Regions from separate parts of the Homo sapiens genome. Here region 2 is linked to region 1. The links come from fine-mapping of genetic effects on gene expression. Tissue or cell type: monocytes. Region 1 holds a variant in brackets; the other region holds the start of a gene. All regions are shown on one strand. Distances are from middle to middle.

Region 1 (4,450 bases):
GCCAATAACAAATGTCATCCCCGAGCTCTTATGAAAGACAGACGGCATTCCCGGGGAATCCACCAGAGGAAAATGACTTAGAGCTGCAGAGAGGGAATGTGGGGAGTCCATGAAGCAGCAGCAGCAGATTGGAAGCTTTTCCAGACTCCAACAAAACCAGGAGGCCATAGCTGCCCAGACAGCAAGGGAATAGAAGATGCCTGAGGAGGCTCATGTCAAAGGCAGGCATGGGCAGTGGGCCCAGAGAGTGGATGGGGTGGATTCAGGGCCCGTCTCTCAGTTATGCACCCAGTACATGGCACCAGGTGCTGAGACCAGAAGCCTTGGGGTCATCCTTCCCATCCATGTGGGGTCACCCCCCCACATCCCAGGTGTCTGCAAACTCATCAACCACCCACAATGCCTTCCAAATCTGGCCACTTTCCACCCTCCAGCTGGAGTACCACAGTAGCCTCCTATCTGGAAGCTTCCACTCCCCTCCACTCAGCCTGATCTCCACACTGCAGCCAGACTGATCTATTTAAAACCCTCCTGTGGCTTCTTGTCACATTTAGAATAAGATCCCTGCCTGGCCTGGCCCCTGGCTGGCTCCCACAGGCATTTCCTGTCCTTGCTCTCAGTCACGCAGTTCCTGCCATGCTGGCCTCTTGCCACCAGCCACAAACCCACCAAACAGACCCCCATCCCACAGTCTTGGCACTTACTCTCCCTCAGCCTAGAATGCTCTTCCTGGAGAAGTCTCCCTGACCTCCCTGGGCCACCATCAGCCCCTCTAGTCTTCTTTTCCCACCATGGTCCGTGGTGCCTACAACTTGTTCGCAATTCCCCACACTCCCTTGGCATTTCTGTGGTATTCACCTGGCAAAGCGCCAGCCCTGGAGAAATCCCACTGACAGCTTTCTCCTTCTCCATGGCTACCCCCGACTGCTGAGCCCCCTGGTGAAAATCCCCCCACAGTACAAGGGCAGCCTGTATCCCATCAATCCCCAGGATCACCCAGGCCCTCTGCACTGCACAGAAACTGCAGGAAACGCCTCCCCACCAGCTTCGCCTCCTCCTCCAGTTTCCGCAGGCCTGTGGCTCCCTCACACCCCTCCTCTCTCTTTGCTGTTATTTTAAAGAAAAGCAGAAGCGAGAAATCTCTCAAAATGTCCCAACCTTGGGTCAAACCACAGACCTTTCCTCCTGACCCCTTGTGAGTTGAGGGCTTTTCCTCTGGTTAAGCCAGTTCCCGTTCCTGCGCAGGATCCCTCCTGACTTCTCAGGAAGTCTTTGCCATCCCTGCCCTTTCTTGTGCCTAACATTTCCCCCTTCCCTCAGCTGAGGCTGGACCAGTCCAGTTTATCACATCACCCACCAAAAATGAGCCCCACCTGCTGCCTTGTTCTCCCCTTCGTGACCACGCACACACACTTGCACACACATACACATATGCACACACATATACACACGTGCACACACACGCACACATGGTCCCCATTTCGTCACGTCCACCTCACTCGTCAGCCCCTCCATTGTGGCTTCTGCCCCATCCCTCTGCTGAAGTAGCTCTTTGTAAAGTCATGGATGATGAACACAAGGTCACTAAACCCAGGGCGCATTTTCATTTTCCTTGAGCTGGACCCCTGAGCTGTGGTCAGCTGGCCGCTGCCTGCTTTTGTCATAACTGTGACTACTCCTCCTTCGGTTGCCTCAGGCTTGCACTTGAGGTCCTTCCCTTCTCAGCCATGGTGTCTCCCTGCGTGGTTCCTTCTGCACCCAGGCATCAGTGCCATCCTCTTCTGTCAGAGTCAAGCCACTTCCGAGCTCCAGGCCCACAGGTCAACTGGCCCCCGACATAGCTGCCTGATCTTCTGGGTCTCCTCTTGCTCGCCTCCAGTCAGTTCCGTATTTGCCACCAAGGCAATCTTCATAAAATGCAAAGCCAGTCATGTCGCCAAAAATGAAAAGCCATCCCAGGGAGACAGGCCGAAAGCCCTAGCGTGGCCTACAGCCCCTCATGCTCTCCATCCAGCAGCACCTCAGCTTTCCCTCCCTGGGTTGCTAACACCAGCCTACACTCCTTCTTTTGTTTCCCCTAATACACTGTATTACCCTCTT[C/T]GGGGCCTTTGTATATGCTGTGCCCCCTTCAAGGAGCCAAAGCCTATGATACAGTTTGGATCTGTGTCCCTGCCCAAATCTCATGTCAAATTGTAATCCCTGATGTTGGAGGTGGGGCCTGGTGAGAGGTGATTGGATCACAGGGTCAGATCTAGTGATAGTGAGTTCTCATGAGACTGGTCATTTAAAAGTGTGTAGCACCCCCCAACCCCCACTCCCTCGCCTCTTCCTCCTGCTCTGGCCATGTGAAGTGCTGGCTCCCTCTTCACCTCCCCCCATGATTGTAAGTTTCCTGAGGCCTCTCCAGAAGCCGAGCAGATGCCAGCATCATGCTTTCTGTACAGCCTGTGGAACTTCGAGCCAATTAAACCTCTTTTCTTTATAAATTGCCCAGTCTTAGGTTTTTCTTTATAGCAGTGCAAGATCAGACTAATACAGTCTACACATCTTTCTCAGCTCAAACAGTACTTCCAAGAACGCCTTCCTCCCCACACCCATGGCTCCCTCCTCCCCTACCCCCGCATCAAGGCCTCAACCACCTGCTTTCCCAGCTCTCCATTCTCATCCCCATGGTACTCATGCAGCTTGTGACTGTATAAGCAGCCACCTCATTGGTCTTACTCACTGCTGTTGCTCTAGTGCAGGCATTGGCCAACGGCAGTCCAGGGGCTAAATCCAGTCCCCCACCTAATTTTTGTAAATAAAATTTTGTTGGGACGCTCACTTGTTTACGCATTTTTTGTTGTTGTTGTTGTTGAGATGGAGTCTCGCTGTCTGCCAGGCTGGAGTGCAGTGGCACGATCTTGGCTCACTGCAACCTCTGCCTCCCAGGTTCAAGCAATTCTCCTGCCTCAGTCTCCCAAGTAGCTGGGATTACAGGTGCCCACCACACGCCTGGCTAATTTGTTGTAGTTTTGTAGAGACGGGGTTTCACCATGTTGGCCAGGCTGGTCTCGAACTCCTGACCTCAAGTAATCTGCCCACATTCAATAAATATGTGGGTCTGTAAATGATCAAGCAGGACAGACTTTGAGATTGGGTCACATTATGTCATTTCACAGAAGACACTGAATTCTGTGGGGAAGTGGCCTTCCCAGGGTCCCCCCGTGCAGTACAGGCTGGCTCTGGGCCCAGGGCTCTTTCCACAAACCATGTTAAGACTCAGTTGTCATCAGGCTATATCCAGGGACACCCACCCAAGCATAGATTGGGAAGGAACCAAGGTCTGGTGTGAGTGTGTGTGTGTGTGTGTGTGTGTGTGTGTACAGCGAGACCCCAAAGCTGGCATGGGAAGTGGGGGCATTGCACACAGCTTTGGGAACTGCCCACCCTTCCTCTCCTCTTGCAGCAGGCCTGGGACCATAGAGAGTCAGACGCACCCCCTTATGAGTCATTTCACCTCGGGTGGTTTCTTTCACCTCTCTGAGTGTCAGACTTCTTAACTATTTGAATGCAGCTTTTATTCCTAAACCCTCGAGTTGAGGCTGGGATTAAATGAGATGTTGCATGGGTAGAGACCGCATGTCCTTCCCACAGCCCACATCTGCTCAGCATGTAGAGAACCACTGCTTATTTTTCCAAGGCTGCCCTTCGGTTGCATTTCCATTTTCCCTGGGAGACACGCCAGTAGCTGAGAGACCAAGATTCCCTCAGCTGACTCTCCTTCTGATGTGACCCCCTGTCACCTGGCTCTGCTGTCCCTTCTAGAGTCAGAGAAAAAAAATGTAAAAAGAAGGAAAACAGCAGGAGCCCTTTCATACCCTGCATGCCACCCAAGACTCCTGGAGGCCTGGAGAAGTGAAGCCAGTTGTCCAAGGTCGCACAGGCATTTGGTGGAGGAAGAATCTAAATCCCTGGACCCCTAGTCCAGTGCTTCCTTCCACAGCCCAGCAGCCTCCTCCGCCTCCAGGACTATTTCCCCCACTCTAGGAGGCAGGGCTCCTATGGCTGGGGAGGAATGGCGGCGAGAACGGTGTGAGGGAGAGCCAAATTATCGGGAACTCACAGCTGCCTCGCCTCCCGCATGGCTGGGAGCTGCAGTCCCGGGGAGAGCAGCCAGCTGGAAGACTTGAGGATGATAAATGGATCAGGGTGCCAGGGCTCCCAGGACAGAGTGAACTCCTCTGTCTGGTCAGAATCACCCGAGCAGGAAAGCATGAAATGGCGCCATTAGGTGAAGGCTGCAGCTGCCCGGAGAGGGAGGCTGGGGGTGGGGAGAGATGCCTGCTCCCAGCCTGCTGGGCCACAGGTCAAGGTCTGAAGAGGTAGGGGTCTGGGAGGCCCCAACAAGGGAGAAGACACACAAGGGAAGGGACTGAGGAAGGGTCTCTCAGGCTTGGCCTGCATCAAG
Region 2 (4,000 bases), 270 kb after region 1:
CCAGGTTCAAGCGATTCTCCTGCCTCAGCCTCCCGAGTAGCTGGGATTACAGGCTTGTGCCACCACCCCCAACTAATTTTTGTATTTTTTTTTTTAGTAGAGATGGGGTTTTGCCATGTTGGCCAGGCTGGTCTCACACTCCTGACCTCAGGTGTTCCGCCCGCCTCGGCCTCCCAAAGTGCTGGGATTACAGGCATGAGCCACCGCGCCCAGCCTAACTGTTTTAATGTTAATGAATGATAGTCAGGACTCAATTCCATGTATGTTTCAATTCCAAGATCCATGTTCTTTCCACTGACTCCATAATGCCACTAACTTCGTAAAATTAATTGAGAACTCTACTCCTAAACCTTGAAGTCTTAAAAGAACCCCGGGACCTCCACCAATCTCTAGATCAAAAGTCATCAAAATACCTACAAAACAACAGACACAGATTCCCTTTTTTCCTCCTTTGATGAAAGGCTGTTTTGGACGAATGGGTACCTCTTGCTCTTCTACTAGACATTACACTTCACCATCTGTTCAAGCACGTGAAATAATAAAATGATCTGCATATTTTTAGAAATAATTTTGAATGATAGGATGTGTCTATGGTTGAAATGACATTATATTTGCACTTCAACACAGTTTACCGAAATAAATTTTTTTTTCAACTTTCTCACTTGCGATGATGGTGGTAGGAAGGGTATTAAAATCCCTAAACTGAAGGGAAAAAAAAAGTTTTTCTTCGAAATTTACTTCCAGGACGTCAGGGATCTACTGCACTTGAAATATGATTCATCTGGAAAACCACAGGCTTCCAGTGCCTCGGTAAAGTGGGTAGGTTACCAGGGTTATTTTGCCGCGTCCCCAACACCAGTTGTTCCTGGGGATCCTCTGTGGAGCAGATAGGTGCCCGTCATAAATGAGACGGTGAATTCAGGACTGGCGGGTGAGGTCTAAAGTGGGAAAGGAACCCAGCAACACCCGCGGTGAGCGGCGGCCGAGAGGCACCTGCCGGGTCCTGCAAGCTGGCGGGAGCTCCGAGAGCCGGAATGGGGCGCCTCCCTTCCACGCGCCCGCGGAGCACCGGCCTTGGACGGCGGCGGGGCGCACGGCCCGCGCTCGAAGCCCCCCCGGGGGCAGAGGGCCGGGCTGGCTGGGCCGGGTGGCCCAGGGAAGGGTTCCCGCGGCAAAAGATGCCGGGGCGGGACCCGGTTCCCTCCCTAGCCTTCAGCGGCCCCAGGGGCGGAGCCTCGCCGAGCTGAGGCCCGAGGGGCGGGGCTTAAGGCCGCGCGAGGAGGGCGCGGTTGCCGGAAATTGAAGAGCCGGGGTTCAGATTCTGACTGCGGCGGCTCGTCGGGGGAGACTGTGGGTGTAAACGGCCTCCAACCTGCCTCCCTACCTGTCGGCGAGAGAAGAGAGCGGTCCCTGGCTGCAGCACCCGGGAGCCGCAACGCTGGCACAGCACCGCCTTCCGGTTTCGGCCCTCGGCTGACACTAACTCGCTCGGCTGCTCCGCTGGTTCCATCGCCGCTGCCGCCACAGGCTCCTCAGCCACGGCTGCGCAGACGCTGTCTCTGCTGGCTCGTTATTCACTGCGCTGGCGCGGCTTGGCAGAGGCGGGGCGGCGAGCGGACGGTCACTATGTCTCTGCGCAGGCGCCCGCTTCCCCGCTCTGGACTCTACTGCGCAAGCGCCTTCATTCATTGCCTAACCTAAGTGGCTAGGTGTCGGCAGGCTTTGTGACAGGGACACTTCTTGGCACCAGTGACACATCTCCATACCCACCTGGCCACTGGGCTTCACTTAAAACCTAGACAAATCATTAGGTTGACCTTACTGTTTAGTTTTCTGGGATCTGAATTTAGTCTCCTGAATAAATGGGGACATTATTGGGGGCAATATGAAGGGAATCTGGGTCGGACTTCCCATCAAGTTTTAGCCACATTAGCTTCTTCTATAGGAAACTACTTAGAGGGGCATGTATCTTTTCGGTATTGGAAAAAGATGCGTGGAAACTTTAATTGCTGGTCTCTTCTACTCATTGTGACCATTTACTATGCGGCAAAATGTGTCAAAGCGCCTTTAGAAACTTACTAAATCATCAGTTTCCTTACGGGGTCGGCACGCTTGTGCACAAAATGAGAAAGGTAAAGATCAGAAAGGTTGCAGCACAACTCTAAAGCCACTGCTCTTAATTAACTAGGATTGTCAGGAAAGCAAGATTATTTCAGACAGAACAGTATTATATATGAACAAGGGTGAGAACAAATTTAGGAATGGTTAGTAGACCACTGTGGCTGACCCACATTACACGTGGGGAGAAGTGGTAGTAGAGGTAGGTAAGGCAGAGTGGGCCCAGAGCTCCATGGCTTTAATGTCATGCTAAGGAATTTAACATTAATAACATGAACAATGGGAATCTGTGGAATTTTAGGCCAGAAATAACTGTTCGATATTTACTGTCTGCTGTATGTTAAGCACTGTAATGATCCTATCTGTGCTTCAGAAAGATAACCTATGAATAAATAGAGGGGCTAGATTGAAGAGAGGAAAAAGAGTAGAGGTAAGGTATCAGGTAGCTATTACCTCATCAGTCTAGCTCAGAAAGGCCCTGAAGCTAGCAGAGGGAACAAAGATATGGGAATGGACTTGAAACAATTAAAATTGTACAGAACTTAGAAACTAGCTGGATGTCTGTATTGTGATGGGGGTGACACAAAGCAACTGCTGGTTTTCCCAGGTTAGATAACTAAGTAGCTGGTTGCCAGTTATGGGAGCTTAAAAAAATAAGATGAACCACCAAATTAGGGGTATCTCTGTGTATGTATGTGAGCACATGAAAGTGTGTACGATTGTGAAGAGTGAAAAAGGAGCTGTTTTACGTGTTGATTTTTCTGTAGAACATACCATTGTGGCTTCAGTGTATGAACTATTTGTGAAGTTGGTCTGAAACTCATTAGTCAGCACTGAAGACAGCATAGGAGCCATCAGTCCTTCACCCTCCCCTGGATCTCTTCCTGAGATAGGAAAAGTCACGTTTTATAGGCTTTGGTTTAATTAGCATGCACAATCCATCTGCCAAAGTTGGTAGGCATCTTTTAAGGAAAATAACTTCCTCATGTGGCTCCTCCTTCCTTTTGCTCTGGAAGCATCAGGACTGTTTCAGTTTTGCAGGCCTTCCGCATAGCTGTTTATATCACATGCCACAATTCAAAGCAAATGGAAAAAAGGACTGGTGTGACTGAAACCCTGAAATTCAAGCGCGTGCTAAGTGAATTCAAGATCTTTTCTGTATTCCTTTTTCAAGTAACTCCAAGCGTCAGAGGGGCTAATGAATATGGCAAATCAGGTAAATATTTTACTGATGAGAATCTCCAAAGTGTAAAGTGGCTACCTCTTACCTGTGTCTAACATAGAAATAGCGGAACTAGTTGGCAAACACACAAGATGAACAGCTTGAAGAGACAGGAGCTACGGCTGATCCCTACATCTTTCCCTCCCAAATATCTACTAAAGGCAATGTTGGTTAGCCACAAACTCTCGGCATTTGAGACCGTTGATTTTTAATATTTTCTTAAAAAAATACAAAGGAAATTAACTCTGTAGGTCAATACAACTCAGGGAAAGAGGGAAAAATGGAATTTCAGAGCAAAGGTTGTTTAGGTTATCACATTCCCACACTCCTAATACCCACAAAACAAGAATTTCACTCCATGACACAGAGGAACATTGAATGGTAGCTCAGAAATGTTGATAGCTGAGGTACTGAAACTAACAAAAGGATTTTGGTTGTCCTTGATTATTCTGTCCTGTGATGAATAAAATCTACACTAAAGGACAGGTAAGGAAAACTTATAGCAGAAAAAAGACTAGATGTACCAAACACAGCAGTACAAACCACTCCTTGGCAGACATGTGCTTCTAAAAGAATGGGGCAGTAATCAGGTAGCTGAACTACTAGGCTACTGTCACTCCCAGCCCATCCCCAAATAAATAGTGTGGAAGTGTAATAGTG

What was found. PIP is the estimated chance that this variant, and not a neighbour inherited with it, causes the effect.
Region 2: RABIF starts here. The variant in region 1 is fine-mapped to the expression of RABIF in monocytes (Quach 2016, PIP 0.95).

What each region holds. Positions count from the first base shown.
Region 1 is chr1:202,615,067-202,619,516 of GRCh38, forward strand. All of the region lies in intron 1 of SYT2 (synaptotagmin 2), which reads right to left. Among named protein-coding and RNA genes, the nearest start is that of SYT2, 93 kb to the right of the region's middle. The variant C/T (reference allele first, on the strand shown) is at 2,101.
Region 2 is chr1:202,887,589-202,891,588 of GRCh38, forward strand. It overlaps RABIF (RAB interacting factor), which reads right to left and starts at 1,561. Exons shown (of 2, transcript NM_002871.5): 1 at 1,385-1,561. The coding sequence starts at 1,510. KLHL12 (kelch like family member 12) reads right to left here. Exons shown (of 12, transcript NM_021633.4): 12 at 3,532-4,000. RefSeq lists a silencer at 967-1,256 and an enhancer at 1,327-1,596.